3 separate regions of the Homo sapiens genome follow, and all the other regions are linked to region 2. Evidence: fine-mapped expression QTL. A gene starts in region 2. Each other region holds a variant in brackets. All regions are shown on one strand. Distances are from middle to middle. Region 1 has its middle 34 kb from the start of BDH1. Region 2 holds the start of BDH1 (3-hydroxybutyrate dehydrogenase 1). Region 3 holds the start of LINC02012 (long intergenic non-protein coding RNA 2012).

Region 1 (10,060 bases), 35 kb before region 2:
TTTCCTGCCTTCTCTCTGGATAACCGGGCATTAGGGGATAGGCCCCTTCTCATTTGTCCTAGTTTGTGTTTTCTTTACTCTTTTGACCTTTGAGGACCATGATATAGAGTCAGGGGCATCTTACGCTAAGTGAAAATTTAATCTGAACTTCTTTTGCTCCGGATCCCTTCTTTCCCCTCGGGTCCTGTATCTTTATCAAACACTGATTTGGAATCCCTGAAGAAATCATTGGTTTTATTATTCAATACTGAGATACAGAGATAGACCTATCATTTAGATTTGAATTCCCTGGTCATCTGTTTCCGCATGATGAATAAACGGGCCTGTGAATAAGACGATGCTCCAGACAGTAAGGAAAGAAAATCAGTCTCAACAGTAGAACAGACTTTAAATGTTGTACTGGACAAATGCAGCGACCCCTTTCAAACCTATGTCACCAGGGCCCTTCTACACAGCTGTTTTAAAGTTTGTCAGCCTATGGCATAAGATCGACCTTTCTCTCTCCTGCTGGATATGGTGTGATATTGTCTCTAGCTGAGTGCTATAGGGTGCCTCCTCTCTTGCTGACTACGAAGCCATTCTTGGAAGGTGTCTGGGGTTGAACTTGTGTAAAAGCAAGCCTGGGGCCAGGTGCAGTAGCTCGTGCCTGTGATCCCAGCACTTTGGGAGGCCGGTGGGTGGATCACCTGAGGTCAGGAGTTCAAGACCAGCCTGGCCAACATGATGAAACCCCGTCTCTACTAAAAATACAAAAAAAAAAAAAAAAAATTAGTTGGGCGTGGTGGTGTGTGCCTGTAGTCCCAGCTACTTGGAAGGCTGAGGCCGGAGAATCACTCAAACCTGGGAGGTGGAGGTTCCAGTGAGCTGAGATCGCGCCACTGCACTCCAGCCTGGGTGAAAAGAGCAAAACTCCATCTCAAAAACAACAACAACAACGATAACAGCAAAAAAAGCAAGCCCTGCTGTCGTGCCAGACCCCTGTTGACTGCAGTAGCGTTGGTAGTGTGTTCGAGACGCCAAAGAAGAGGCTGGGGGCCAGTGACTGAGACACAGGGCTTCCTGAGGGGACTTACATACAGGGCAGTCCAGTGGCAGCAGGCTGGACCAGAGAATGGCAACCACTCGTAAAAAGCATGCAGTTTATATAGCATTTTCACCTAGCACCCTCCCCCTAGCAACCTCCACCTGGCAACCTTCCTTTAACCCAAAACAAAGGGCCTGGATCCCCTCTATGGCCTCCATTCCACAGGATGGGCGGGGGGTTCAGATGCCCCTCGCAGATAAGGAATGAGTCTCCAGGTTGGCCCCATTTCCCGATTCCTTAGCTCAGAACTCCAAACACATTCTTTTTAGGCCTAGGGTCATTCTCAGGGTATGCTTAAGTTATTGCTGTCAGGTGCATCCTCCATACACCTGTGATTTGTTTGTTTGTTTGTTTTGTTTGAGACAGAGTCTCGCTCTGCCACCCAGGCTGGAGTGCAGTGGCACCATCTCGGCTCACTGCAACCTCTGCCTCCTGGGTTCAAGCGATTCTCCTGCCTCAGCCTCCCCCAAGTAGCTGGGATTACAGGCGCCTGCCACCACTCCCGGCTAATTTTTGTATTTTTAGTAGAGACAGGGTTTCACCATGTTGGCCAGGCTGGTCTCAAACTCCTGACCTCAGGTCATCCACCCACCTTGGCCTCTCAAAGTGCTGGGATCACAGGTGTGAGCCACCATGCCTGGCCTGTGATTTTGAAATCTTAAGGCACCTGGTGTGGTGGTCACCAGCTTCTGCCTAATGAGCAATCCCACCTCCGTGCGGAGACACAGCTCTCCTAAATCAAGTCTTTCTTAACAATTCTGAGCCCAGTTCCTCTTCCCCTCGCCCCTGTTCGTGGCAGGATCTGGAGTATTACGGACCACGAGAGATGCAGAAATGGAGCACAGGCGGTGAGCCAAGGACACCCGAGGTACGAGCTCTTGCCCTTCTCCTTCCCTGCCCTCTGCTGCCTGGAGATACGGCAGCCCAGCACCAGCCCCCCAGCTGCTTCCAGTGGAAAAATGCTGTGTCATTTCAGGGAGGGATTATAGTTTGAACTTGTATTGATTAAGTCTTTATGTGACGCTTCCAAATCCTTGTGTTTTTCCATAGACGTTGAGTTTTCCGTTTTCATCCCTAGCTAGATGGACTCACTATGAGCACCCCCCACTTCCAGGGCCAGGATGAGAGCCTCCCCCCTTCTTACAACATGTGAAATCATGAAGACCTCTGCCTTGGCCCAATTTCCCTAGAAAACAGAGCCTGAGGCAAAGCTTGTGTGCTTCTGGGCAGCGGGGCTGAGTTCCAGGAAAGTAAGAGTAAAGGACGAAAGGAAGTGAGTTCCAGGAAAGTAAGAGTAAAGGACGAAAGGAAGTGAGTTCCAGGAAAGTAAGAGTAAAGGACGAAGGAAGTGAGGAGGCAGCGCACGCACGAGGTGGGAGGTTAGCAAGCAGGCCGTGGCTTCCTCAGCACACGCCGCTGGTTGCTCACTCCTGGGGGCTTGATCAAGGAGCCTGGGCCTAGCAGAGTTCCCTTGGGGTGCTTTCTCAGGATGCCGAATTTAATACCCTGGTAAGGACCCCAGGTGATGAGACAAACTCAAGGGTGACTCTTAGAAGCCCGGAGAAAGTGGCAGCCAGTGTCAATGGCGGCAACGGACATGACTAAGTAGCCCTGGAAGATGGTAGTGAAAACACAAAAAGCCTGAGGAAAGTGGGCACGCTGGGATGGCTATGTCATCTGAGACCAGAAGAGCCACCGGGGGTGGGGGTAAGTATGAGGGGTGGGCCCAGAGAACAGGTGATTGACCACGACCATCAGGAATGCTCAGGTGAGAGGCACCAACCTCACTAAACAGGAGAGCTGGTCACAGAGCTGGGCTCACTGCTACCCATGGCAATGAAGCCCCTCTACCCCCAGGCATAGAGGCCAGGTGGTGGCCTTTGGCTTCCAGATGCCAGGAGGTCATAATGACCTGCAGAGTTAGTCATGCAGCCAACCAGGCCCGGCCCACAGGGAGTTGTGGTCCACAGAGCACAGCATCTCCCGGGGCAGAATAAATGGGCAACCTACACAGGTGCTGCCTAACGCCTCCAGCCAGCAAGAGGCACAAGTGGAGACGCAGGAGGCTCAGAGCCCTAATACAAACTTACAGTCCCTTACTCAGTTGTTTTGACCTAAGCCAATTTTCCGATCTGGAATCCATGGACTGAAGAGGTGGCTGGGTCTCTAAGAATGAACTCGGCAACACCGGCAAGAAAAGAGTGTAATGATTCCCCCAGTCTTTCCCTAGGGGGACCCGTGGCCGTGTACTTGGGTGACCGTACACGGAAGAAAAAGGAATCCCCAGATGTCCGGAGGGCTACTTGATGTAGTGACTGAGTTGAAACTGATACCTGGAGACCCAAAGCACCATTGTTGTCTCCTTGTTAGACTGAGGGGCTATGGAGGTCAGTCCATCAATGAAATCCTGCCTAAAGTCTGACACACGAGTGGCAGAATGGCCTGGAAGAGGCCGTCGTCAGCAAAGAGGACATTTACTCCAGGAGATAAAGCATTCAGGGCCGGGTGTGGTGGCTCATGCCTGTAATCCCAGCACTCTGGGAGGCTGAGGCGGGCGGATCACAACGTTGGGAGTTTGAGACCAGCCCGGCCAATATGGTGAAACTCCATCTCTACTAAAAACACAAAAATTAGCCAGGCGTGGTGGCTCACACCTGTAATCCCAGCTACTCCGGAGGCTGAGGCAGGAGAATCCCTTGAACCTGGGAGGGGGAGGTTGCAGTGAGCCGAGATTGTGCCATTGCACTCCAGCCTGGGCTGCAGAGTGAGACTCTGTCTCAAAAACAAACAAATAAACAAACAAACAAAAAACTTTCCCCACCTGAGATGGCTGCAGGGGAGCATAACAGTTCTGTTAGAGCAGGAAGGGGAGGGGGAATAGAATTTTTATTGTATTTTATTAGACATCTTCATTTTCTAAATTTTCTGAGATAAGTTCTCAAAATTAGTGTGAACCAGTCATCAGGAGCTCCTCATCTGGTGTGTTTTCCTGGATGTACAGTGCACATCCTGCAAAAGGATGCCCCCTTCAGAGAGGTGAGGTTCAAACTCCAGGGAATCAGCCCAAGAGCAGTTACCTCTTTGCAGAGGTGTGGAAAGTGGCAGGAGAAGAGACAGGCCCTGATGGCAATTCAGCAAACATCACCCATGTGCCAGGCACTGTGCCAAGCACCGGGATACAGAGATTAATCCAGCTGGTCTTTGAAGTCCAGAAGCCCCCAGACCAATAATCCATAACTAGCCATGGAGGACTTCTCACTAGGGAAGAGGCCACCTCTGCAGGCCTCTCTCAGAACTGGGGATGTGGGTGTTTACTCACTGCTGGGAAGGGCTGACCTTTGAGTTGTTTTCCTAGTCACAGAAAGTCCTCTGATCCACCACCTGCATGGGTGAGATTCGGCTGGGTCAGGGCAGAGCTCCTCCCTGAGCCTGCAGGGCGCTGGGCCTGCCATGTGTAACCCAGCAGAGCGGCTTCTCACCCACTGCCCAGGCTGGCAGCCTTCTAGGGAAATCTGTGAAGAAAACACATTTAGGGGTGTGACATATTTTCTCCTGGTTTCTGTAGGGTTCCTGCTACCTTGGAAACAAAGACAGAGAACTAACTGGCAGCCACTGGCTGAACAAAATTCCATGGGCCTGGAAAGGCAACTCTGATTGTGGTTGGGTAGCCCAGTGCCTGGCGCAACGCCTGCACAGTGAGACGCTTCTGGTTGCTGGTGTTGATGGAGGCTAGAGGCTGTTACAAGATGTGTCTGAGAAATTTCAGTGTATTTTTCGGTTATTGTTTTTCTTTTGAAGTACCAAATGCTCTGACAAATTTGAACAGACAGAAGTATGAGGTAAAAACTGCCCCATGTATCCCTTCTCTTAGTAACTCCCTTGTAATTCCTTCTAGAAAATTTCTTAGCAAATGTAAGCATAAACTTATATATATATTTATATATATATATATATTTATATATATATATATATTTTTTTATATATATATATATATATTTTTATATATATATATATTTTTATATATATATATACAGCTATAGATAGATATAGATATGTAGATGTACACACATACAGTTGGTCGTAGTATACATCAGATCCTTAATTAGCTTTTCTCAAAAATATCTATTAAAGATCTTTCACAC[A/G]CTCCTGTCACTCAAGAGACCGTCCCGCCTCAACCTCTCGAGTAGCTGGAACTACAGGCACGCGCTACCGCGCCCAGCTATTTTGTTTTTTGTAGAGGCACGGTCTCTCTGTTAGCCGGGCTGGTCTCAAACTCCTAGGCTCAAGCAATCCTCCCACCTCGGCCTCCCAAAGTGCGGGGATTACAGGCGTGCACTGCACCTGGCCTGTTTGCCTGATTTATAGTTTTCCTATATGTAATTGTATGATACAGGGGTACACATTTGTACTGTTGCTTTAACCCTGCAAATGTTAGGGGTGGGTCACTTCTAAGTTTCCAGTCTCTGTCAACCTGCTGGTGAAAAATGGTATATGTAACTTTGTGTATTTTAAAAAATTAATACAGTTCAACACCTTTATATATGTTTCTTAGCCGTTTGCATTTTTTCTTGTGCACTACCTGTTTATATCGTTTGCTCATTTCTTTCTTTTTAACATTTATTTATATTTATTTATTTATTTATTTTTGAGATGGAGTCTTGCACTGTCGCCCAGGCTGGAGTGCAGTGGCATGATCTTGGCTCATTGCAACCTCCGCCTCCTGGGTTGATGTGATTCTCCTGCCTCAGCCTCTCAAGTAGCTGGGATTACAGGCGCCCACCACTACACCCAGCTGATTTTTTTTGTATTTTTAGTAGAGACAGGGTTTCACTATGTTGACCAGGCTGAACTTGAATTCCTGACCTCGTGATCCACCTGCCTCGGCCTCCCAAAGTGCTGGGATTACAGGTGTGAGCCACCACGCTCAGCCCAACATTTTTTTTATCTTTGTATATTAAGTGGTCTTTGTGTATTAAGTTAATTAGCTCTTTGTCATATGTGTTGCAAATATTCTCCTCCCCACTTTTTGTCATTTATCTCTTCATATCCTTTAGGATATGTCTAAAATATACAAATATATGAAATACAAATATTTACATACATAAATATATAGTATATATTTATAACCTGTAAAAATATAAGTATAAATATAACACATGTTAACATGTATTTTTTCCCATATAAATGTTTAAATATTTTCTGCTTTCAAATTTATTCATCATTTTTCTCCTTTTCACTTCTTTCTTCTTCTCTTTTTTAAATTTTTATTTATTTATTTGGGAGACAGGTATTGCTCTCTCCCCCAGGCTGGAGTGTAGTGACATGCTCATAGCTCACTGCAGTATCCCAGGCTCAAGTGATCCTCCCACCTCAGCCTCCCACATGACTGGGACCACAGGCACACACCACCACGCCTGGCTAATTTTTGTATTTGTAGAGATGAGACCTTGCTATGTTGCCCAGGGTAGTCTTGAACTCCTGGGCTCAAGCGATCCTCCTGCCTCGGCCTCCCAAACTGCTGGGATTGCAGGCAGGAGCCCCTGCGCCTGCCCAGCTCACTTTTAATTTTTTTTGGAGAGACAGGGTCTCATTGCATTGCCCAGGCTGATCTCTCAAACTTCCTGCCCTCAAACAATCCTCTTACCTCAGCTGCTTCTTTTTTAAGAATAGCAGTTATTTACATTCTACTTATATATATATATATATTTAAACCTCACTTTAGCCAATGTGACTGCCAAAAAACAAACAAACAACTAAACTAACTCACTGGGAGATCTTTAAAGAAAAACCCATGCTTTTTTCCAGCACATTTTAGACATGTCATTACATATGGACTAGTCAAAAATCAGTTTCAGGGAAAGTAAAAGTAAGACAGAACAGAAAAATATATTGGAAGAAATAATGGCAAAAAAAAAAATCCAAATGTGATTAAAACTACAGACCCACAAATACAAGAAGCTCAATGAACCCCAAGCATAAGAAATGTGAAGAAAATGACACCAAGGGACATCGCAATCAAATTGCTTAAAATCAATGTTCAATAGAGAACCTTAAAAAGAATCAAAGGAACAGGAAGATGTATACATGAACAATGATTAAGATGACACCAGATTTCCCATTGGAAAAACACGTGAGCAAGAAAACAGTGGAAAGCCTGGTGCATTGGCACGCACCATGGTCCCAGCAACTCGGGGGGCTGAGGCGGGAAGACGACTTGAGCCCGGGAGTTGTGGCCAGCGTGGGTAATACATGAGACCCCATATGTTGAAAAGAAAAGACAAGAAAAGGCAAAAGGAAAGAAAATCCTTAAGCAAAACCCTTAAAGTACAGCAAGAAAAGAAAATCCTGTTAACTAGAATTCCATAACCAGCTTAAATATCCTTTATAAATGAAGGAGGTGGAATGAAGTCTTTTTTTCCAGACATGCAAAAGCTGAAAGAATTTATCCCAAGTGCCCACACAACAAGAAAGGTTAAAGGAAGTCCTTTAGGCAGAAGGAAATGATACCAGATGAAAATACGAGTATATACAAAGGAATGAGGAGCAACTACGTGGGTAAATAGAGAAGTTCTTTTCCTTATTGTCTAAATCTCTTTAAAAGATAAATGTTTAAATGAAACTAAGAACAATGTTGCCTAGGCTTTGTGGCATAAGTAAGTGTAAAAATGGCAGCAGAAAGGTCAAGAGGGGAGGAATTGGATTATTGTATGGTTCTTTTTTTTTTTTTTTTTGAGACGGAGTCTCGCTCTGTCGCCCAGGCTGGAGTGCAGTGGCGCGATCTCGGCTCACTGCAGCCTCTGCCTCCCGGGTTCAAGCGATTCCCCTGCCTCAGCCTCCCCAGTAGCTGGGATTACAGGCACGCACCAGCACGCCCGGCTAATTTTTGTGTTTTTAGTAGAGACGGGGTTTCGCCGTGTTGGGTTCTTATACTCTAGTGTACACTATAATATCACTTGAAGATAGACTGGCAAGTTAAAGATAGATGCTATAAATCCTTTCAATTTCCTTTCTGGTAAACTGGACACATCTAGCTTAATAATTACCTATTCCTACTCATAAAAAAAAAAAAAAAAAAAAAAAGAGGCCGGACACAGTGGCTCACGTCTGTAATCCCAGCACTTTGGGAGGCCAAGGAGGGTGGATCACCTGAGGTCACAAGTTCGAGATCAGCCTGGCCAACAGGGTAAAACCCCGTCTCTACTAAAAAATACAAAAAAAATTAGCTGGATGTGGTGGCGGGAGCCCGTAATTGTAGCTACTCAGGAGGCTGAGGCAAGAGAATCGCTTGAACCCGGGAGGCAGAGGTTGCAGGGAGCCAAGATCACGCCACTGCACTCCAGCCTGGGCAACAGAGTATGACTCTGTTTCAAAAAATGAAAACAAAAACAAATTTCCCTCTTCTCAGTTAATGGAAATACATCCTTCCAGTTACTCAGGACAAAATGTTCAGAGTCATCCTCGATATCTCTCTTTCTCCTTTACCCAGAAAGGATCCAGTAGCAAATCCTGTGGACTGTATCTTCTGAGGGTGCTCAGATGAGCTACTTCTCACTCCTCTGCTGCCTGCACCCTGGCTTGAGCCACCATCTGCTCTCTCCTAAATTATTCCAACTAGCTCCTAACTGGTCTCCTGCTTCCATCCTTGACATGCTTCAGCATATTCTCCAAATAGCAGCCAGACAGATTCTTTTAAAATCAAAGTCAGCTCATATTACTCGCCTGCCCAAAAACTGCCAGTGGCTGGGAGCAGTGGCTCACAGCTGTAATCCCAGCACTCTGGGAGGCCCGGGCAGGAGGATCGCTTGAGCCCAGGAGTCTGAGACCAGCCTAGGTACATAGTGAGACCCCATCTCTACAAAAAATAACAAGTTAGCCGGGTGTAGTGGTGTTTGCCTGTAGTCCCAGTTACTCAGGAGGGTGAGGTGGGAGGATTACTTGATCTGGGAGGTCAAGGCTGCAATGAGCCGAGATGGTGCCACTGCATTCAACCTGGGCGTCATCCTATGTAATCTGGCTTCCACTACCTCTCTGATCATGTCTCCTCCTCTGCAGCCTCTCATTCGTGCACTCCAGATACCCTGGCCTCCTGGTGCTGTTCTAACTCATGGTGCATGCTCCTTGCACAAGCTCCTGCCATTAGCACTTGCTCTTCTCTCTACATGGGATGCTCTTCCTCCAGCAGAAGCAGAATTACCAATAGACTAATGGAGCATAAACTTCTCACCCTTTACCGACATGGGCCCTCCCAAGGCCTTGTACCCACTTTTGTATTGATAATTTCATATTCTATTTCTTAAAGAGGCTCTCAAAGTTGTATCAACATAGGGTCCCACAAATCTTGGATCTATTCCTGTCCCCCAGATATCTGTGTGGCTCACTACTCCATCTCTTTCAAGTCTTTGTTTAAATATTGCATTTGGACTGAGACTGTTTAAAACTGCACCACCAACCCTTCATCTCTAGTAACTTCCTATCTTCCTTTCCCTCTTGTTTTCATCCTTAGAATTTATTATTACCATTTGCACTGTTAATCTTCATTTCTTTATCTTATTTTCTGTCTCCCTCATTAGAATTTAAGCTCCGCAAATGCACAGATTTGTGTGTTTTTTTTTCCAGCTATCCCCAGTACTTAGACTAATACTTGGCAAATAGTAAGTGCTCAATAAATTTGTGTTGAATGACTGAAGCTCTCCTTTTGGCGTAAGGGAGTGAAATGAAAGAATTTGTATTTGTAGACCCCCCAAAAGGGACAGTATGACTTTAGGAGGAGGACAGAGGCAGGAGGAATAGAAAAGGCAGGTGGTTTTGTGTTTACCAAGGACCTGAAAAACTTAAGTCTCACTGACAACATTTCAAGGTTGGTGTTTGGTCTGGAGGTGCTGGGGCCAATGGAATGTGGATATTCTGTAAGGGGCAGATGCCCAGAAGCGGGGGCAGACGTGAGGGCCTGTTGCTGCTGCATCGTCTCTAAGACAC
Region 2 (10,060 bases):
ATCTTGGTGCATGCAGTGTTGGGAGTGACCTGATTTCCACAGACTGTCTGTGTTCAACCTCACAGCCGAATGTTTCTCCAGTTCCAAAGTCAACAACCAGAACGGTAGAAGGTGGGGAAAGGTTGAAGGTGGGGCTGAGAATGGCTTTGTCTGACCCCTTAACCCAGTCCCAACTCCTCAGTTGGCCCTTTCTCCTGGGAGTCTCTTGCTACTATCTGTGTCAGAGTTCACTCGTGATGCCCTAAGGGGCAGGGCCTTTGGGAAATAAAGGAGAAAAAGCACAAACCAAACAAATAAATTCTTCCTTAGCAGGGTTGGGAAAGATAAGCTGAGATGTCTCTTTTGGGTTAACCATTGGCTTAATCTGGGTTCCCCCAAATAGCAGAGCCTGAGCAAGGACTTGTGTATAGGTAGTTTATTTGGGGAATGAATCTGTTTTGTATGGTTAAAATAAGGAGAAGATCAAAGTATGAGTTCATGAATCACACAGTTTATTGCCATACAAAGAGGTCTTTCTTTTTCACAATTCTTAAAAAGGGGGAGAATAATGAGAACAAATCTCACAGGGGATACACTCAACAGACAAGGTACATTAATCACATAATGAATGAGTTCCAATTTCATTTAGAGTCCAATTATTAAAGTTCAGTTGAAGCTGAGCATGGTGGCTCATGCCTGTAATCCCAGCACTTTGGGAGGCTGAGGTGGGCAGATCATCTGAGGTCAGGAGTTCAAGACCACCCTGGCCAACATGGTGAAACCCCATCTCTACTAAAAATACAAAAATTAGCTGGGCGTGGTGGCGGGCACCTGTCCCAGCTACTTGGGAGGCTAAGGCAGGAGAATCGCTTGAACCCTGGAGGCGGAGGTTGCAGTGAGCCGAGATCGCACCATTGCACTCCAGCCTGGGTAACAAGAGTGAGATTCCATCTCAAAAAAAAAAAAAAAAAAGTTCAATTGCCCACTTAGGATGGAAAGCAGGCTTTTGTGGATGCAAAGTCCAATCAGAGTTTGAGGCACTACTTTCTAGGAGAGGTTCTCGGGAGGGACAGCTTGACTAATACAATGGAGATCCATGAAGATACGTGAGGTCTCTTGCTGCTAGAGAGCGGTGCCAGTGTTGTGAGACAAGGCTTCAAAAACAGCTTCAAGGCTTCCAGAGAGTGGCCTCGCCACATCCTAAGCTCTCCAAGCGTCTGTCAAAATCCTGGGTTTCTATGTGTTTGGAGTCCAGTGGTTGAGGTCAGTAGCTCCCATGCGGGGTCTGATAAGGTGTGACATGACATTCCCTTGGCTAGGGAGAGTTCCCTGCATGTTCTAATCACAGTAAAACAATATCACTCTCACAGAAAAGTGAAAGTGTTCGGAATCATTTAAAGCTACATAACAAAATCCCAAGGAATTGGAGGGGAGGGCTGGGAAGAGTCAAATAGGGAAGGAGGGAAAGAGAATGGCATCCAAGGGTGTATTCGTGAGTTGATCAAGTCGGTCACTACTATGGGCAAACAGAATGCTATCATTTTAGGAGCTGCATAGAACATATCTCAGAATTGCCCACTGGAAGACTGGAAGAGCAGAGTATTTTTCCTGCAGTTCCTGCCTGCCCTTTGGTCAAAGTTTGTCCTTTGAGGTGTTCCTTTGCACTTCCAGGTTTACTCATGTGTCAGAGTGGACAGCGGATTCCTGCAAGGGTCCCAGGTTGCAGTGCCAGAGACGCAGAATACCAGGTGCAGCTGAGGCAAGGTGCTCTCAGGTTACACCTGTTCATACCTGGTTGTCACAGCAAAGCTGGGCTGGGAAGATGTAAGGCCAGATGTGTAATACAACCTCAGAAAGGTCAAATGTCCTTTTCTGTCTTATGCAAATAGGACTACAATTCAGTTTAATTCTCAGAGTCAGGATCTATGTTTTTTCCCTTGGGGTAAAGAAGAATTCTTCCTTTAACTACTTTTCTAGCAAAGCATAATCCTCAAGGCGTAATTTTAGTATAGTGATTTATTTTTAACCCTGTGGTACTATATGCCTAATGTTCTGAAACACCGTCACTGGAGCAAATCCAGGCTTGAGTCTATCTGTGAAACGGGAACAGAAAACTAAGTGCATCCTCCCTTCCTGATTCTCCCAGTCTTCAAGGCTGTATGTGCCAGGAGCTGGGGATAAAGGAGATAGCCTTAGCTCTCCAGAAGCTCACAGAATGGACAGACAGAGCCAACAGTTTTATTTGTTTGTTTGTTTTTTGAGACAGTCTCCCACTGTTGCCCAGGCTGGAATGCAGTGGCACCATCTCAGCTCACTGCAACCTCTGCCTCCCAGGCTTAAGCAATTCTTCTGCCTCAGCCTCCCACCTAGCTGGGATTACAAGCATCCACTACGAAGGGCAGGGTTTCACCACATTGGCCAGGCTGGTCTCAAACTCCTGGCCTAAAGTGATCCACCCGCCTCAGCCTCCTACAGTGCTGGGATTATAGGCGTGAGCCACCGCACCCGGTCTACAGTTTTCTTTAAATCTTCATCATGCCAGTACTTCCCTCCTCCTGTTTTCATCTTCCTGTATTTGCAAGTTTCATTCATTCTCTTCATTCTATTCATTCCTTCTCTGTACTTTACCTAAACATAGTTGTGAACCCCCAAAATCTGAGCCAGATCAATTTAGGAAGTTTATTTTCCCAAAGTTAAGAATGCACGCAAGTGAAATGGCCTCAGGAAGTCCTGACATGTGCCTAAGGTGGTTGGGACACAGCTCGGTTTTATACATTTTAGGGAGACATGAGACATCAATCAACATATGTAAGATGAACATTGGCTCAGTCTGGAAAGGTGGGACAACTCGAAGCAAGGAGGGAGCCCCCAGGTTATAGGTAGATGAGAGACAAATGGTCGCATTCTTTCGAGTTTCTGATGAGCCTCTCCAAAGGGGGAATCAGATATGCATTTATCTCAGTGAGCAGGGGGTGATTTTGAGTAGAATGGGGGCAGGTTGGCCCTAAGCCGTTCCCAGCTTGACTTTCCCCTTTAGCCTAGTGATTTGGGGGCCCCAAGGTTTATTTTCCTTTCGCGTAGCTTCGCCACTAATGTGTCCTGGTGTCTTCTCTCCTCAGCCTGTTTCTCATCCTGGAAACTGAGGTGTGCTGGCGCAGGGCGATAGCGCAGTGGGGTGGGGTTGGGAGGAAACCCTTATCTGTGGCCGATGGCCCTCCGTTGTTCTATTATTAAAACTCTGGGAAACTGCTATTCTTAATTTATTTTTAAAGACCCTGAGAAGCAAATCTTTAATTTTTTTGTTTTTGTGAGACGGAGCACTCTGTCGCCCAGGCTAGAGTGCAATGGTGCAATCTCGGCTCACTGGAACCTCCGCCTCCTGGGTTCAAGCGATTCTCCTGCCTCAGCCTCCCGAGTAGCTGGGATTACAGGCGTGCGCCACCGCGCCCTGCTAACTTTTGTATTTTTAGTAGAGACTGGTTTTCACCATGTTGGCCAGGCTGGTCTCGAACTCCTGACCCCAAGTGATCCACCTGCCTCAGCCTCCCAAAGTGCTGGAATTACAGGCGTGAGCCACCGCCCCCGGCCTTTAAATAAATTCATCTGATCAAAAGAAATTTAAAAACCAACCAACCCTAATGAGCTCTAAAGACAGCAACACGCACAGGACCTGGAAAGAGCCTCTTCCTCACCGGAGTTTTCCTCACTTCAAGGAGCGGCGCCTTCACCCTCCGGCCTCAGCCCGCGAGGCTGCAACCCTTTCCGCACCTGGCTCCATCTCCCTGGCCCTCGCCCCCGCCCAGCGGTCGGGGAGCGAGAAGGCGGCGGGGGATCTGGCGCCCGGCTTAGGGGCGAGACGGCCGCACCGGGAGCCTAGCGATCAGGGCACCTTGGGCGGGAGGAGCGCCAGCCGGGCACCCAGCGCGGAGGAGGCGGCTCGGCGGCCCCCCGACAGCCACGCCGCCGTGAGCCCCGCCCAGCGTAGCCCCAGCGCGCGCTTCGCGTGTAGAAGCGTCCGGGTGGCGGAGGCCGCAGGCCGCAGGAGTGCTGGTGGAGGGGCTTCCAGAAAGACCCTGCGGCAGCGCCCCCCCTCGGCTCTCCCCGCAGGAGAGCGGGCACCTGCGCGGCGCCGGGTGAAGGCGAGAGCCTCGGCGAGCCCTCTGCAGCGGAGCCCCCTGCCCATTTGGTTTTGGGTAAGAGGAGGGGTCCGCGTCTCTGCAGCTCGGGCGGGATTCCCTGGCGCCCTCTACTCGGTTTGGTTCGGCCTCACGTGTTCCTTTAGCTCCGAAGCCGGGATACGGGTGGGGAAGGGGGGCTCGCGCCCTACAGGCCGAGCCCTGCGGCCGCAGCGGGGTAAGGGTAGGATGGCCGATCGCGCCCAGACCCCAGGGAGTCTCCCTCTCGGCTTTTCTGCCGGCGTCTCCAGCAGCATGATCTGGCATTTATTATTCGGAATAATGTGCCAGGCAGGAGGAGGCCCTGGGTTAAACACGCGGCCCTGCAGCTCCCAGGTGAAACGACTCATCGTTTCCTGCCGGCGCATCTTACTGAAGGGGACCCAGGCCCCACGAAGGGAAGGAACCGTCCTCAAGGTCACGTCGTAGTCAAAGGCCGAGCCCAGACCGAAGCCAGGTGTCCTGCCTTCTAGCCCCGGGCTCTAGGCCCTGTCCCCTTCCCGACCGAATCTCCCAGTCCCGTCCGCGTCCCTCCTCCTCCTCCTCCTCCGGGGTCCTCCGCAAGGCTCTGTTCCCGGGGTTTGGGGAGTCCTCCCTCCGCGCCACAGCGCCCTGGGGAAGAATGCTGGACAGCAGGCAGGCCACAGGGCCGGGGAAGGAGGAGGAGCCGCGGGGACAGGCTGGGGATGCCAGAGTGGTGGTGGGCCCGGGACTGGCCAGGGTGGGAGTCCAGGCGGCGCACCCGCGCGAGGACAAGGGGGCTTTGGCTGGGCGGTGCTGTCTCAACCAATGGGAAGCGTGGCTCTGGCCGAGCCCCCCTCTCTCCCCGCCCTCCGGCCGGCCGTTGGGGAGCGCTGCTCTGGGATTGGCTGCGCCGCCGTCTCGGGCGTTCTCGCGCTCTGCTTACGTGCTGACGCGCGCCTGATAGATACCCTGTGGGTTTGAGCGCTCCGGTCGGTCCCTAGCGGCCCAGGCGCCTTGGGCGTGCGTCCTGCGCGCGGCCGCCTCCAGGCTGCGCCCTTCTGGGGAAGTGTTTGGTGCTGCGCGCGGCGTCGAACTCCGCGTTTTTTTTTTTTCTTTTCCAGCCAGTCAGCCTGGAAATCTGCCTGTAGTCAGCTGATGCAGAGTCACCCTGCAGTTCCTACTTTGAGGGGTTGCAGAAGCACATATTTCACTATGGAGGGCCGCCTGCAGGCCTCGCGCTGACAGGATCTTTTGTGACGCTGCAAATGTCCTGGTCAGTGTCCTTCTTTCTACAAGAGGCGTTGGAGCCGGGCTCTGCATAGGGCGTATATATCCCTGGCCGCCAAGGAAGCTGACCCTTGAAATTTGTGAAGCTTTCATATTCACTCAATACACATTTACAGAGCCTCTACTTCCTGTCAGGCGTCACACAATAAATATTCGGAGGAGCAAGAAGAGAGTGATTCAACATTTGGGTCTTGTCTGTAGGGTGCTCACAGTCCGGGTGGGGATTGGTGGTAGGATGGGGGCTTGTGAATGTTTATAAACAGAAATCCCTCGAATACGACCCTGGCTAGGTAGGTGCAGTTACAGAGGCACAGAAGGGAGGAGATTGGGCGAAAGATTTTTGAATTAGGGGATTAGAAAAGGCTGCTCGGGAGAGTTATCTGAACCAGCTAGGACTTGGTCAGATGCAGTCAGTTTGGTATAGGATGAGCAAGGCTCGAAAATTGGAAAGTACAGGGCTTGTTGAGGGATGGTGTAGCAAACGGTTGAATGAGTAGAGGAGAAAAGTATAGTTGGAGATACGGTTTGGAGGAGCCAGGTGAGGACTCGGGGGCTCAGCTTGTGTCCTCGGGTTTGAAATGCAGTAAGCACTTGTGAATAGAAAGGCTGCTTAATCATTTGCACTACTGTCATTTGTTACACCTAGACCAAACATCTTGGAAATGGCTTTGATTCTTCCTTCTTTCATATCCTACACTCAATCTGTTGGTAAATGGTAGCGGACTCTACCTTCAATATAAAGCCAGACTTACCAATTCTAATCAGTTCCATGGTTTTCACCAAGGCTGGTGTACATTTCTAAGGAACACGTTTTCACATCTCACTGCAGTGGTGCAATATACAACCCTCATGACTGCACATGGTGGCCCTGGATTACTGCCACAGATCCTAATGGGTCTCCCTGCTTCTGCTCTAGTCCATCCTCAACTTATTAACCCAGTGAGAGTTACCTTTTTAAAAATGTAAGTCTGATAATGGCACTCCTCTTCTTAAAACTCTTCTTTTTTTTTTTTTTTTTTTGAGACAGAGTCTTGCTCTGTTGCCAGGCTGGAGTGCAGTGGCGTGATCTCGGCTCACTGCAATCTCCACCTCCTGGGTTCAAGTAATTCTCCTGCCTCAGCCTCCCAAGTAGCTGGGACTACAGGCGCGAGCGACCACACCCAGCTAATTTTTGTATTTTTAGTAGAGACGGGGTTTCACCATGTTGGCCAGGATGGTCTCGATCTCTTGACCTCGTGATCTGCCCACCTCGGCCTCCCAAAGTGCTGGGATTACAGGCGTGAGCCACCACACCCAGCCAAAACTCTCTTAATTCATTTAATTATGTACCAGCCAGGCGTGGTGGCACACACCTGTAATCTCAGCACTTTGGGAGGCCGAGGTGGGCAGATCATTTGAGGTTAGGAGTTTGAGACCAGCCGGGCCAACATGGTGAAACTCCGTCTCTACTAAAAATACAAAAATTAGCCAGGCATGGCGGTGCATGCTTGTAACCCCAGTTACTTGGGAGGCTGAGGCAGGAGGATTGCTTGAACCTGAGAGGTGGAGGTTGCAGTGAGCCAAGATTGCACCCCTGCACTCCAGCCTGGGTAACAGAACGAGATTCCATCTCAATGAATCAATCAATCAATATTGTGTGTCTGTTGTGTGCAGGGCACTGCTGTACATGTTGGAGATACAACAGTGAACAAAACAGACAAAAATTCCTGTTCTCAAAGAGCTTATATTCTAATGAGACTGAACAACAACAAACAAGATAAATATGTACAACATGTAGAATGCTATAATGTAATAAAGTGCCAAGGAGGAGGAAAAAATGGAAGCAGAGAAGGGGGATAGTCAGGGTTGGGGTGGGATAGATGGGGTGGCCAGAGAATGTCTTAGTAAACATTTTAGTAAAGGACTGTGGATATTGAGGGAAGAGTGTTCTAGGTAGAGGGAACAGTAAGGACAAAGGCCCTGAAGCAGGAGCTGGCTTGCTATGTTCCAAAGACAGCAAGAAAGCCACTGTGACCAAAGTGCAGTGAACCAGGTAGGAATGAGGTCAGAGGGACAATGGAGACCCAGAACATGGAGGGCCTTGTAGGCAAACTCTAGATTTTGGCTTTTACTCTGGCAGGAGTTTGGTGAGGCGTGACATGATCTGATTTATGTTCCGCAAGATCCTGCAGGCTGTGTTGACCAGAATCTGGAGGAACTACAGTGGAAGCGGAGAGTCTAGTTGGGAGGCTACTGCAATAATCCAGGCAAGAAGGGATGAAGGCTTGGACTAGGCTGGTAGCGGAGGATCCTAGATATATGTGAAGGTGGCATTGATAGGACTTGCCGAGCACTGGGCCGTGGAGTGTGCAGGAAAGGGGAGTCAAGAATGAGGAAGATTTAGAGGAACAGGTCTGCAGGACAATAGCACAGGCTCAGTTTTGCACAGGTTGCATTTGAGATACGTAGTAAACATTCAAGTGGAGATGTTAGATGCGCAGTTGTCTGAGTTCAGGGGAGAAGGTTGGGTTGGAGATCAACCTTCGGGAGTTGGCGGCATGTGAATCGTATTTAAAGCTATGAGTGCTCGTCATGGTGCGGAGAACAGACCAAGAACAGAGTCCTGAGACTCCGTTGTTTAGTGGCCTGCCTTTAATTTGGTAGGCAAGCCCTGTTCTCCTAGTGAAAAAATGCCCACTTGATCTGGCAGTTGTAATTATGGCAGTTTTGACAGCTCGGGTAACACTTTGTCTTGGGGAAGGACAGAAGAGGAGTGGAATGGGGGAAGCACAGGTTCCAGTGTCGTTATAAGGTCATTATAAATGAGGCATTCTCAGAATAGGGGTCAAAACTGAGAATTAATACACCTCATATGCTGTTGGTGGGAATGTAAATTAGTACAACCACTACAGAGAATAGTTTGTAGGTTCCTCCAAAAACAAAAAATAGAGCTACCATAGGATCCAGCAGTGCCACTGCTGGGTATATACCCAAAAGGAAGGAAATCAGTATATTGAAGAGATATCTGCACTCCCATGTTGGTTCCAGCACTTTTTACAATAGCTAAGATTTGGAAGCAACCTAACTGTCCATCAGCAGATAAATGGATAAAGAAAATGTGGTACATATACACAATGGAGTAGTATTCAGCCAGAAAAAAAGAATGAGATCTGTCATTTGCAACAACGTGGATGGAACTGGAGGTCATTATGTTAAGTGAAATAAGCCAGGCACAGAAAGACAAGCTTTGCATGTTCTCACTTATTTGTAGGAGCTAAAAATTAAAACAATTGAACTCATGGAGATGTAGTAGAATGATGGTTACCAGAGGCTGGGACAGGTAGTGAGGGTCTGTGCAGTGGGGAGAAGATGGGATGGTCAATGGGTACCAAAAAGTTAAAGAGAATGAATAAGAACTAGTATTTGCTAGCATAACACAGCGACTATAGTCAATGATCATTTAATTGCACATATAAAAATAACTAAAAGAGTATAATTGGATTGTTTGTAACACAAAGGAGAAATGCTTGAGGGGGTGGATACTCCATTTTCCCTCAGGTGATTATTACACATTGTATGCCTATATCAAAATAGTACCCCGTAAATATATAGAACTACGACCTACCCATAAAAATAAAAAGTTAAAAATAATAGTGTTCTGCCTTCAGTTTTAGCTACTATTGATTTGGTGGCAAGTGGCAGAAACGTCCAGCCTGCTTAAATTACACAGAGACTGTAAAGGCACAGCATGGCTTCTGGAGCTGGGGGGCAGATGGGAGGCGGCTGCTGCTGCTGTTGCTTTTCTCCCTCCCTCCCTCCACCTCCACCCCTGCTGCTTTCTGCATGAGCATCTTATCCCCCCACCCCCTGCAGATCGGCTTTCTCCCTCTCTCTGTGGCTTCAGGGCCCAGTGGAGTGTAGCTGCCGTCCTCCAGCAGCGCCATTGCATGGCCCTGCGCCACAGAGCATGGTTCGCATTCTCTCACGGTGCCAGGGGACAGAACAATGGGCTCACCTTGGGTCTGGTGTCTCTTCCTGGCTCAGTCCTCCGTGACCAAAGCATAGTCTCTGCAGCTGCAGAGGCCAAATCCTATGAGGGAGGGGCAGGTCTGAGAGGAGGGGACATCAGGTGAGCAGGACAGACCCCCGAAAGGTAGTCACTGCAGAGTGTATGTGGTGTGTTATCGGAGGAGAACTGGTCGCCACCGAAGCCTAATCTGGTGACTGGAATGTCTCTCAGGACGATCAAGGTGTCTGCATTGGGTGTGCCTAATGTTAGACCCTTGGCTTTTATTGAAGGTCCCTGTGAAACGAGCCATGTGAGTGTCATCTCTGCATGTATGATACAGTGGTGGTGAGAACACTGTCTACTATATCACTTGATGTTCCTGTGTAATTATTTCTGACTTTTGTTTGAGAATGGTTACTTCTCTAAGGAATGTTAGGTGTCTTTTTGAATGAGGGCTTGAGAACTTGTCAGGTTTCCCGTTTGCATGACCTCAAGGAAGCTCCCACGTATAGCTGAGCTGGGTTGGAACTTTCAAGCAAGACTCTACGAAATGTTCGGAAGAGGAATGGCCAAATATATATATAATAGTTATTTGATTATAGTGCATATATAGATATATATGGTCAGGAATCTCAAAACTCAAATGCCCATAGTGTCCAGGCAATTA
Region 3 (10,060 bases), 43 kb after region 2:
GAATGTAAAGGGCTTGATTAGGGGTCTGCCAGCTGTCATGTTGATCTTGAGCTGTAATATTAGCAGTACTGGGTGACTCAGTAGGTGGGGGAGGGGTGGAGGAGCTGGAGGAGTCACAGACAAAAGTAAAATCATTAACAAAGAGGAGGAGCAGGCTTGGGCAGCTTGGAAACTTGACGTGTTGGTTGTGGTTAGGGTGAGTCAGGGACCCGTGGGACATTCAGGTGGAAGCGAGACAGGAGATGGGATGAGGAGAGAGAGCCGTGACTCCCAAGGAGAACTGAGGGGCCACTGGTGCGGAGGCGATCTTGGGGATGTTACAGGAAAGTTGCTGTCACCCAACCAGCGGGCATGCCTCCGTGAGTTTATTCAGAACATTGGCTGAGGATTCCAGATGGCAACTAGGTCCACCACTCTCAACACTCATTAAAGCTGTAATCCAGGGGCTGTGCACTTTCACAGGTCATGTTTCATTAAACTTTTTTGGATAGTAGCGTCAAATGTCATTGTTTTATTTTTAGGTAGAGAAAGGGCTGTATGCATTTTAAGTCATGGGATATTGTCCGTTATGAATCAAACACAAAACGGCTGCAAAATTCACAAACATGAAGAAGATGAGGACACCTAAGAGTTAAGTGTACTTTGAGAGGAGCAGGATTAGGCCAGGACATTGGGGGCCACTTGTATCTGGGGGCAGGTGAAAGAAAGGTGTCAGGGAAGATGCAGGAGATGCCTGGGTATCACTAATGCTGAGGGAGAGGTGAGCCTCAAGGAGTACTGGCAGTACTCATATCGTAGCGAGCCTGAGGAGAGTGAAGACTGGGGGTGAGGTCCTTGGTGTACCACCCTGGAGACCCTGGAGACTGCGTGGTCAGGACAGCTGAGGGCTGGGACCCAGTGTGGTATGGAAGGGAGATGGAGAGGATAGAGCGCGCGCGCGCGCGTGTGTGTGTGTGTGTGTGTGTGCGTGCTCTGTCACCCAGGCTGGAGTGCCGTGGCATGATCCGGCTCATTGCAACCTCTGCCTCCTGGGTTCAAGAGATTTTCCTGCCTCAGCCTCCCGAGTAGCTGGGACTACAGGTGCCCGCCACCACACCCGGCTAATCTTTGTATTACAGGATAGAGTTCTTGGAAGCCTGGCGTGGAGGGAGGGAGAGCAGGTAGCACAGTTACAGAAGGATCTTCGGGATATGGAAATGCGGTATTTGTGGACACTCATTCATCTAACACACATTTGTTGAGCTCCTAATGTGTATAGAACTGAAGGGATGGAGTCATGGGCAGTGGAAAAGCTGAAATTGTGTAAAAGAGAGAGAAGGATCAGTGGCTATGGTCTCGAAGATGACGTGGAAGTGTCAGCCATGACGGGTGGGGAGTGGCCTGCTGCTCCTCCTGGGAAGAGAAGAAGGTGAAGACTCAGGGCGCGTCTGCAGGGAGACAGTGGGAGCTGTGGGGTCGTGGATGACGCTGATCCTGTCATTAGCATCTGAGCGAGGTCACAGGTGAGACCTAGAGCAGGGAGACACCCGCAAGGCTTTGGTGGAGAGTGGGAGTGAGCTCTTCATGGACACTCTGTTAACCAGCAATTTCCTTTCCCTAATAAATGCCCTTAATTCTCCATAATTGAAGGAGAAGGCACCAGAGGGCAGTGAATGAAGCTTTAATTTGGGTAACACGGAAGGAAAGCAGCTAGAGACCAATTACTCTGTCATTTACACAAACTCATTTCCATGATTAACTTGGAAAATAAAGCAGCGCCGAGTTCCCACAGGCAGGGGAGGGCCCCAGGATGGGAGCTCTGCTCTGAGGCTGTGCCTTGGGAAGGAGCACGGGGCTATCGGCCCGGGAGACCAAACACTGAGGGTTTCCACAACAAAGAGGCAGGGCCCAGCTCTGTCCTGAGGCTCTGACCCATCCAGCCTTTGCACCCCAACAAACTGAACTCAGAGAGGTCCCTGCAAAACACAGCTGCCTCCTCGTGCCCACCTCCCCTGTGATTTCCCTGGCTTCTGGCAAGAGAAGAGAAGACGTGAGCAAAAGCTCAAGGGCAGAGATGAGTAAACAGGAACGGGGCGTGAAACTCAAACTCAGGGTGTGGGGATGGGATGGGGTGGAGTGGAGTGGAAGTGGGAATTTGAGGTGAGGTGAGACTGAAGGCCGGGGGACACGGCAGGCTGGGTCATGATGGGCCCAGAGACTCGAGCCAGGCAGATGTGACGTGAGGACTGGACATTCTAGACGCAAGGGAGGGCTGCAGTCAGCACTTTAGGCCTCTTTACCTCCTGTCGTTCCTGAGTGACTCTAGAAAGTTTCTTGAGAGCACTGGGCGAGAGGCTGGGAAGTCACAGGAAAGAAGCAGAGAGGAGGCTGGCCTGCAGGCTGATGGGCAATGTCTGGGCCAAGCCCATGTGGTAAATGCACATCTATCCCTCTCCTGTCCAGGCATGTGGGGCCTCGTTAACAATGCCGGCATCTCAACGTTCGGGGAGGTGGAGTTCACCAGCCTGGAGACCTACAAGCAGGTGGCAGAAGTGAACCTTTGGGGCACAGTGCGGATGACGAAATCCTTTCTCCCCCTCATCCGAAGGGCCAAAGGTGAGTGGGAAAGGGAGCTCCCTCCTGCCCCTGAACCTGCCCCACGTGTTCATCTTTGCTCAGAATGGAAATACCTGTCCCAGCAGCTCCAATGTCCACAACTCAGCAGAGGTGAGCTCGTGAATCCCAGGGACTATGCTGGGCCTGGGGTGATGGTGGGCAGAGGGGCTGTGGCCGGGTAGGGGAGGAGGAAGCAGAGCAGGTAAGAGGTCAGTGGTCCATGCAGCAAAAGCTTAAAGAGTTGAGCAGCCATCCACTCTGCACACCTAATCTATAGAGAGAATCACCCTTTGCACAAAGCTGTGTGTACACATCTTTGTATCAGTCAGGTGTGGTTAGTAAAATCTGGCATATTCATTCTATGGGTTATTTATATCGTAGTTTAAAAAATGAGATCATTGTGGTATTAGGGAACAATAGTAAAAATCAAGATTAGAAATTTGGAAAACCAACAAAACACCCAAACCATGTGGGTGGCCAAATGTGAGCAAACCACTTTAGAAGTCATTGACTTGGATTTTTTTCTCTGGCATAGCAAACAATTGTGGCAAAAAGGGTAAGATCCATACATCTATGGTGAAGTCCTAGCAACAACAAGCATGAACACAGACTGCAGCTGTAGGATTTTAGATGGAAACCCCAACCCTTCAGTGACTTCAAATTTAGAGCTTTCTGAAAGGTGCCTCCCCCAGGATGGGCTGAGTTCCCTCCCGGGGACACACCTGGATGGGCTGAGTGCCCTCCCGGGGACACACCTGGATGGGCTGAGTGCCCTCCCGGGGGCACACCTGGATGGGCTGAGTGCCCTCCCGGGGGCACACCTGGATGGGCTGAGGGCCCTCCCGGGGGCACACCTGGATGGGCTGAGTGCCCTCCCGGGGGCACACCTGGATGGGCTGAGTGCCCTCCCGGGGACACACCTGGATGGGCTGAGTGCCCTCCCCGGGACACACCTGGATGGGCTGAGTTCCCTCCCAGGAAAACTGGTCCCAGATCCGCCTCGGCTTCCCGGGCTGGGCCAAATGCAATCCACTTCCAACCCCTCTGTTCCCAGGGCCAGGAGGAGCTGTGGGAGGCCCCTGATGCCCCCAGGCTGGGCCTGTGGCCTTTGGAGGGGGATCACCACACTCTCCCAGTGCCCAGGACTCTCTCCTCATATCCTAGCCCTGAAGTCAGGTTCAGAAATCCTGCCCCTGCCCCTGCCTGCTGCTCTGTTTGCCAGGCGGTCCTGGTCTCCACCCAGGCTCCACCCTACCAGGGTGGAATGGAGTTGGGGAGTTGGGCCTAACAGCACGGGTCCTGTCCTCTTTCAGGGCTGTCCCGGGGCTCCCTCCCAGCTGCAGCCCCAGGTACTTCCTCGTCTGCACTCCAACCCCCATCGCCAGGGCTGCTGTCAGTGGCTAGACACTTGGCCCTAGTGTGCTACTTATCTGCACGTCGTACTACTGGAGCTGGACTTTAAGCTCCATAAGGGGAAGGGGAAGCTTTCAGGCTGTATTTCTCCCTCACCAGCACCAGACCTTGCCTATAGTGAAAGCTCAGATCCACACAGACAGCTGTCTCGCCTCCCACTTCTCCCCTCGTGTTTTCACCCCAAATTATCACCGCATCGGGCTTGATCTGGTTTTTGAGTCAGTTGCGTGTTGCCCATTACACTGTGCCCTGCTGCTTCTCACTCACTTGTCCTCCCCTGTCCTGCCTGGCACAGCCAGGTTCCCAGGGAAGACCAGGGGTGCCGATGCTGATGCGTGGGCCTGAGCTGGCCTTGCCTATTGACTGAGAAGGCTCCTGGGTGGCTCAGAAGTGGTTCCAGCCAAGCCTCTAGAGACATGCCAGACTTCTGCCCGCTGTGTCATAGGGCAGTAACGGCTTAGCAGGTACCTCTGTCTCCCTCTGTAGGCCGCGTCGTCAATATCAGCAGCATGCTGGGCCGCATGGCCAACCCGGCCCGCTCCCCGTACTGCATCACCAAGTTCGGGGTAGAGGCTTTCTCGGACTGCCTGCGCTATGAGATGTACCCCCTGGGCGTGAAGGTCAGCGTGGTGGAGCCCGGCAACTTCATCGCTGCCACCAGCCTTTACAGCCCTGAGAGCATTCAGGCCATCGCCAAGAAGATGTGGGAGGAGCTGCCTGAGGTCGTGCGCAAGGACTACGGCAAGAAGTACTTTGATGAAAAGATCGCCAAGATGGAGACCTACTGCAGCAGTGGCTCCACAGACACGTCCCCTGTCATCGATGCTGTCACACACGCCCTGACCGCCACCACCCCCTACACCCGCTACCACCCCATGGACTACTACTGGTGGCTGCGAATGCAGATCATGACCCACTTGCCTGGAGCCATCTCCGACATGATCTACATCCGCTGAAGAGTCTCGCTGTGGCCTCTGTCAGGGATCCCTGGTGGAAGGGGAGGGGAGGGAGGAACCCATATAGTCAACTCTTGATTATCCACGTGTGGATTATCCACCATGCCAGGAAGACCCATAACTGGTTTTAACACTAACTAGAGGGAATGACTTCTTTGCATAGTGAGTGACTTGGGCCTTCACAAACAGGGTGTGGAGTGGCAGGCAGAGGCCTCTAAATCTCAG[G/A]GCAAACATGGTGAATCTATCTCTCCGGAGATAATTTCATACAGAGATTTTAAGAAAACATCTTTATATTAAAAACAGATCTCATTTGATCCTTAAGCCAGTCTCATGAATGAAAAGGACAGGTTTTTTTCTTTTGTAAATGAAGCATTTGCAGCTTAAAGAGGATGCATGAAATAACCCTTTTATCGCTTATAAATAGTGCCAGTTATGTGTTCCTGCCACGGCTGTGGAAATACTTCACATTTGCATTCCAGGACTGTTTTGGATCCATTTGCCCGAGAATCTTCTGACTAACTCTGTGTCCTCATCTGGGCAGCACACACCAAGTGCCCACTGGTACCTCTGCATGTCCATGGTGCTGTGTGACTGGCCAGCCAGCAGCCAGTGACTCAGAGCTGGCTGTATGGAGGGGGTGGGAATGTTTCTGGAGATTTTTGTTTTTCCAGACACAGTCTTGCTCAGTCCCCTAGGCTGGAGTGCAATGGCACCATCTCCGCTCACTGCAACCTCCGCCTCCCTGGTTCAAGCGGTTCTCCTGCCTCAGCCTTCCAAGTAGCTGGGGTTATAGGCACCCACCACCATGCCGGGCTAATTTTTGTATTTTTAGTAGAGATGGGGTTTCACCATGTTGGCTAGGCTGGTCCCGAACTCCCGACTTCAAGTGATCCGCCTGCCTTGGCCTCCCAAAGTGCTGGGATTACAGGCATGAGATTTTTACTTGAGATTTTTCCATCCTCTTTTAGGACTCAGGATAGACTTGTGTGGAGGTGCTCTCTGGCTAAGGGGATAAGTTGTTACTGGTTTGGGTCTGCTTGGTTTTGCCTTGGGTGGGGCCGGTGTCGATGGGGCAGGCTTGGCACGAGCAGTGGTGCCATGGCAGGGCACTGTGGCATCTCCCCTAGCAGTGGATTTGGGGTCCCTGCTTGCCTCACGTGGTGCTTACACACATGTACACACACACACACACACACACACACACACACACCTTACACACATGTACACACACACACACACACACACACACACACACACACACACACACACACACACACACACACACACACACACACCCCTGTTCTGCAGGGCTTCAGCGTGGCCTTCATTCCCGCCTCGCCTCGGCCTCTTTTCAATTAAGAAGTGATGCCACTTGAGGCAGGGTCTGCATGATCACTTCTTGGGTTTCAGTTTGAAAGCTGCCATCCCTGCGACTGCCCAGGGCCTGTATGTTGGGACCGAAGCCAAACACCACTGTCCTCCAGGGGGCTTTCGGCCCGGGGCAGGGTCCCCAGTGCCCGCCTTCGAATCAGACTCCGCGTTTCCGCCTCTCCCTGGGCGGACCTGCCGCTAGAGGGCGCTCCTCCTCCGCAGCCGGCGCCGGCCTCCAGCGCCCCAGACTCCCGCGCTGCCGCCCGAGCCTGAGGTTTCTCACGGCGTTCGGGATTCGCGCTTCGGAAACCGGGAACAAAGAAGCAAGCAGCACCCTTCAGAAACAGTGTTCTCGCTCTCCTAGCAGCTGGCCCGGGCCCGGAGGCTGGTGCCAGGAGAAGGCAGAAGAGCCCGGGCAGCCGGAGTGGGCTACGGGGTTCAGGCAGTGCCAAGGAAGAAGGGCCTCACAATGGGCAATTCAGCTGCCTCCCGGGCCGTTGTCCCCGCTGTCTTCAAACAGGGGTCCCCTGTCCCAGCTGCCCCAGGAGGAGGGGGGGAGGCAGGCAGGGCCGAAACCCTCCAGAGCCCAGAGGGGGACGCTTGGTGGCCGCTGCAGTTACATAACCATAGGATGCTTTTGTACCGTGGACCTTGTTCTAGCAGGATCCTTTCGGAATTGCACTTTTACATGTTGGGCGAATTTGTGTCCGTGCTGAAGTTTATTAAAGGAAAATAGATGGAGCCTTGGAGTTGCACGTGTGCGTCCCTGCCTGGGAACTAGAGGAAGGAGGGCCACATACTCTGGGTCCCCATCAGCAGACCCGAACGTCAGAGAAGCTGCATGTGCGTCTACTGGGATCTTCTGAGTAAGCTAGAACTGCTGGGCCGGCCTGTGCAGGTTGTTCTGGCTTTTAATCGTTTCCAGTGATTGAAAAGCCCAGGCTACCATCCCTCCAAATAACTCCAGTGCTAACTCAAACCTCATATTCACCATTCACTTTCCGGCAGCTTAGAACCTACCGGGGCGCAGGACGTAGTTTTCGTCTTTACCAGAGTGCGTGGCCGGGCGCGGTGGCTCACACCTGTCATCCCAGCATTTTGGGAGGCCCAGGCGGTCGGATCGCCTGAGGTCAGGAGTTCAAGACCAGCCTGGCCAACGTGGTGAAACCCTGTCTCTACTAAAAGCACAAAAATTAGCCAGGCGTGGTGGTGGGCGCCTGTAACCCCAGCTACTCGGGAGGGTGAGGCAGGGAGAATCGACTGAACCCAGAGGCAGAGGTTGTAGTGAGCCGAGATCATGCCACTGCACTCCAGCCTGGGCAACAGAGTGAGGCTCTGTCTCAAAAAACAAAACAACAACAACAAAACAAAAAAAGAGTGAGAGGACAAAACAGGTGTATATTCCCATTTTATAGATGACATAACTGAGGCCCAAAGAAGGAAAGTGACTCACTCAGTGTCACAGTAAATCCACGGCAGGACCAGGGCCAGAACAAAAGTCTCCTGAGTGGCACTCTTCACTATCACATAACACTGTGGCTCGCAACAGCCCTGGAAGCAAAGCCAGTTGGGGTCACCAGGCACCTAGACCCTCACTGCTTGTCTGCTGGCAGAGAGCCGCTCCTTCTTGTCAGAGTAAGTAGGAAGGAGGCCTTTGCCTGTGCGGACCTATGGTCTGGTGACTCCAGCCAGCACAAACCCATCCCCTGATGGTTGGAGGCTGGGCAAGGGCTTCTTGCAAGATGCGCCTGACAGTGCCTTGTTACAGAGCACCTGCTGTGCTTAGCATTCCACCCGGGGCCAAGAGGCTGTGTGAGCAGGTGACAGCCAGCCTGGCCCCGCCTGTCACAAGCTGCTAGGTCTGCACCCTTGCCACCCATGGCAGGGGGTCTGACAAAGACTCCCCATTTGTGAGGTCTGTTCACTGCCTGTATTTCGAACAGGGCCTGGCTCTGCAAACCTGTGCAAACTGTGTTGATATAGGAGCCGACATGAGCAAGCAGAGGCTCCCCTGGCTCAGGCAGCCCCAGGTTGGGTTGGCCAGACAGCAACCAGGCACAGGGGCCAAGTGCAGGTCCTGCTACCCAGCCACCACAGCTTCCTCTCACCTGATTCTCACAGCAACCCAGGCAGGATAGGCAGGGTGGGGTTATCTTATTTTGCAGAAACAGGCTTTCCCAAGTCTGTCACCAAGTGAGGGGTAGAGCTGGGTGTCCAGCCAGATCTAACCTCCAGCCCAGAGCTGGTGATGCGGAAAATCAGGGCAGATGGCAGCAGGATCTAAAATAGGGAGGGAAGAAGTCCTCAGTTACGTAACAGCGAGGAGACTCTCAGCCTACGCACAGTAGCAACCATGGGGTCCTGCCACTCGAGCCAGACCCTCCTTCCCTTCCCGTTTTGGGCTCTAAGTGCTGCCCCCTGTGAGAGAATGTGCTGGAGGAGCCCCCAGTATCCTTCCAGCGGGAAGTCGGCTCTGTCAAGGCCATTCCCGAGAGCAGGCTCTAGGAATTCAAAGACCAAGCAGGCAGAGCTGGATTCTGGAGCTGCCCTCAAAGGGCTTGAGGGTTATATGAGCGCCGTGCTTGAGAAGTTAGTGATGATTTCTGCTCAAAGAGACAGAGCAAGAGGGCTGAGGGGCTCTGGTGCTCTGGGGGAGATGAAACAACCCCACAGTATATGAGGCCTCTCTGGTGTGTGCGGGCACTAAGGAAGGGTGACTTGCGAGTGGCGCATTCGGAGGCACGGGGTGGGCAGCTGTTGAGCAAGGGACCAGGGCTGGGACAGGCTGCCAGGACCCCCACAACCCCAGGGGAGGAAAGGGGACTCAGCCATCATCATGCCTGACTCCCAGGCTCCCGGATGAGGAGCCTGCTAGCCAGGGCTTGAAGCCCTCCAGTGACAGGGGGTGCATTACTTCCTAAGAAGCCATTTCCTTGGTTCAGAAACGTTTATCCAAAGACTGAGCCGAAATCTACCACCTCACTTAATGTTTTTGGCACCTGGTTATGACCCAGACCTGCACAGAATAATTTAACTCTTCTGAAATAGACTTCCAGATATTTGGAAGTGGCCAAGTCAGGTTTAAGAGCTCAGGTCTCCCATTTGACAAGATTTCCATCTCCTCGCTGTCTGAACAGGTTTCAGCTGTGGTTATCCAATCCCTCATTCTTGATGACACACACCAGGCTGAATGGTCTTTAGAGTTCCCCTCAAGCCGCCAAGCGCTCTGAGACAGGTTTACTAGCTTTGGTGAGATGCTGACACTCCTCACATGCACGTGCCCCTCCCAACTACTCAAGTGAGTTCGTGGCAAATCTCTCATCTGATCTGCATAAACGGATTATATCTTAGGCGGTGCCATTGTCTGCATTTTACAAATAAGGAAACTGAGCCTCAGGGAGGTGAAGTCATTTGCCCAAAATCACAGAGCCAGGAAACGAGAGAGCCAAGATCCAGACCCCGCAAGATCCAGACCCCACAAGATCCAGACCCCGCAAGATCCAGACCCCTCAAGATATAGACCCTGCAAGATCCAGACCTCACAAGATCCAGACCCCACAAGATCCAGACCTCGGCTATCTGGCTTCTCTTTTTTTTGCGACAGAGTCTCAATCTGTCACCCAGGCTGGAGCGCAGTGGTGTGATCTCAGCTCACTGCAACCTCTGCCTCCCAGGTTCAAGCAATTCTCCTGCCTCAGCCTCCCGAGTAGCTGGGATCACAGGTG

What was found.
Region 1: its variant is fine-mapped to the expression of BDH1 in whole blood (TOPMed, PIP above 0.99).
Region 3: its variant is fine-mapped to the expression of BDH1 in prefrontal cortex (BrainSeq, PIP 0.95).

Annotation. Positions count from the first base shown.
Region 1 is chr3:197,584,983-197,595,042 of GRCh38, reverse strand. No RefSeq gene overlaps it. Among named protein-coding and RNA genes, the nearest start is that of BDH1, 34 kb to the right of the region's middle. The variant A/G (reference allele first, on the strand shown) is at 5,227.
Region 2 is chr3:197,549,893-197,559,952 of GRCh38, reverse strand. BDH1 (3-hydroxybutyrate dehydrogenase 1) reads left to right here and starts at 3,985. Exons shown (of 8, transcript NM_203314.3): 1 at 3,985-4,172; 2 at 5,240-5,391.
Region 3 is chr3:197,506,799-197,516,858 of GRCh38, reverse strand. It overlaps BDH1 (3-hydroxybutyrate dehydrogenase 1), which reads left to right. Exons shown (of 8, transcript NM_203314.3): 7 at 2,443-2,595; 8 at 4,495-7,076. The coding sequence ends at 4,964. LINC02012 (long intergenic non-protein coding RNA 2012) reads left to right here and starts at 7,198. Exons shown (of 1, transcript NR_145451.1): 1 at 7,198-10,060. RefSeq lists an enhancer at 4,570-5,107 and a silencer at 8,367-8,661. The variant G/A (reference allele first, on the strand shown) is at 5,190.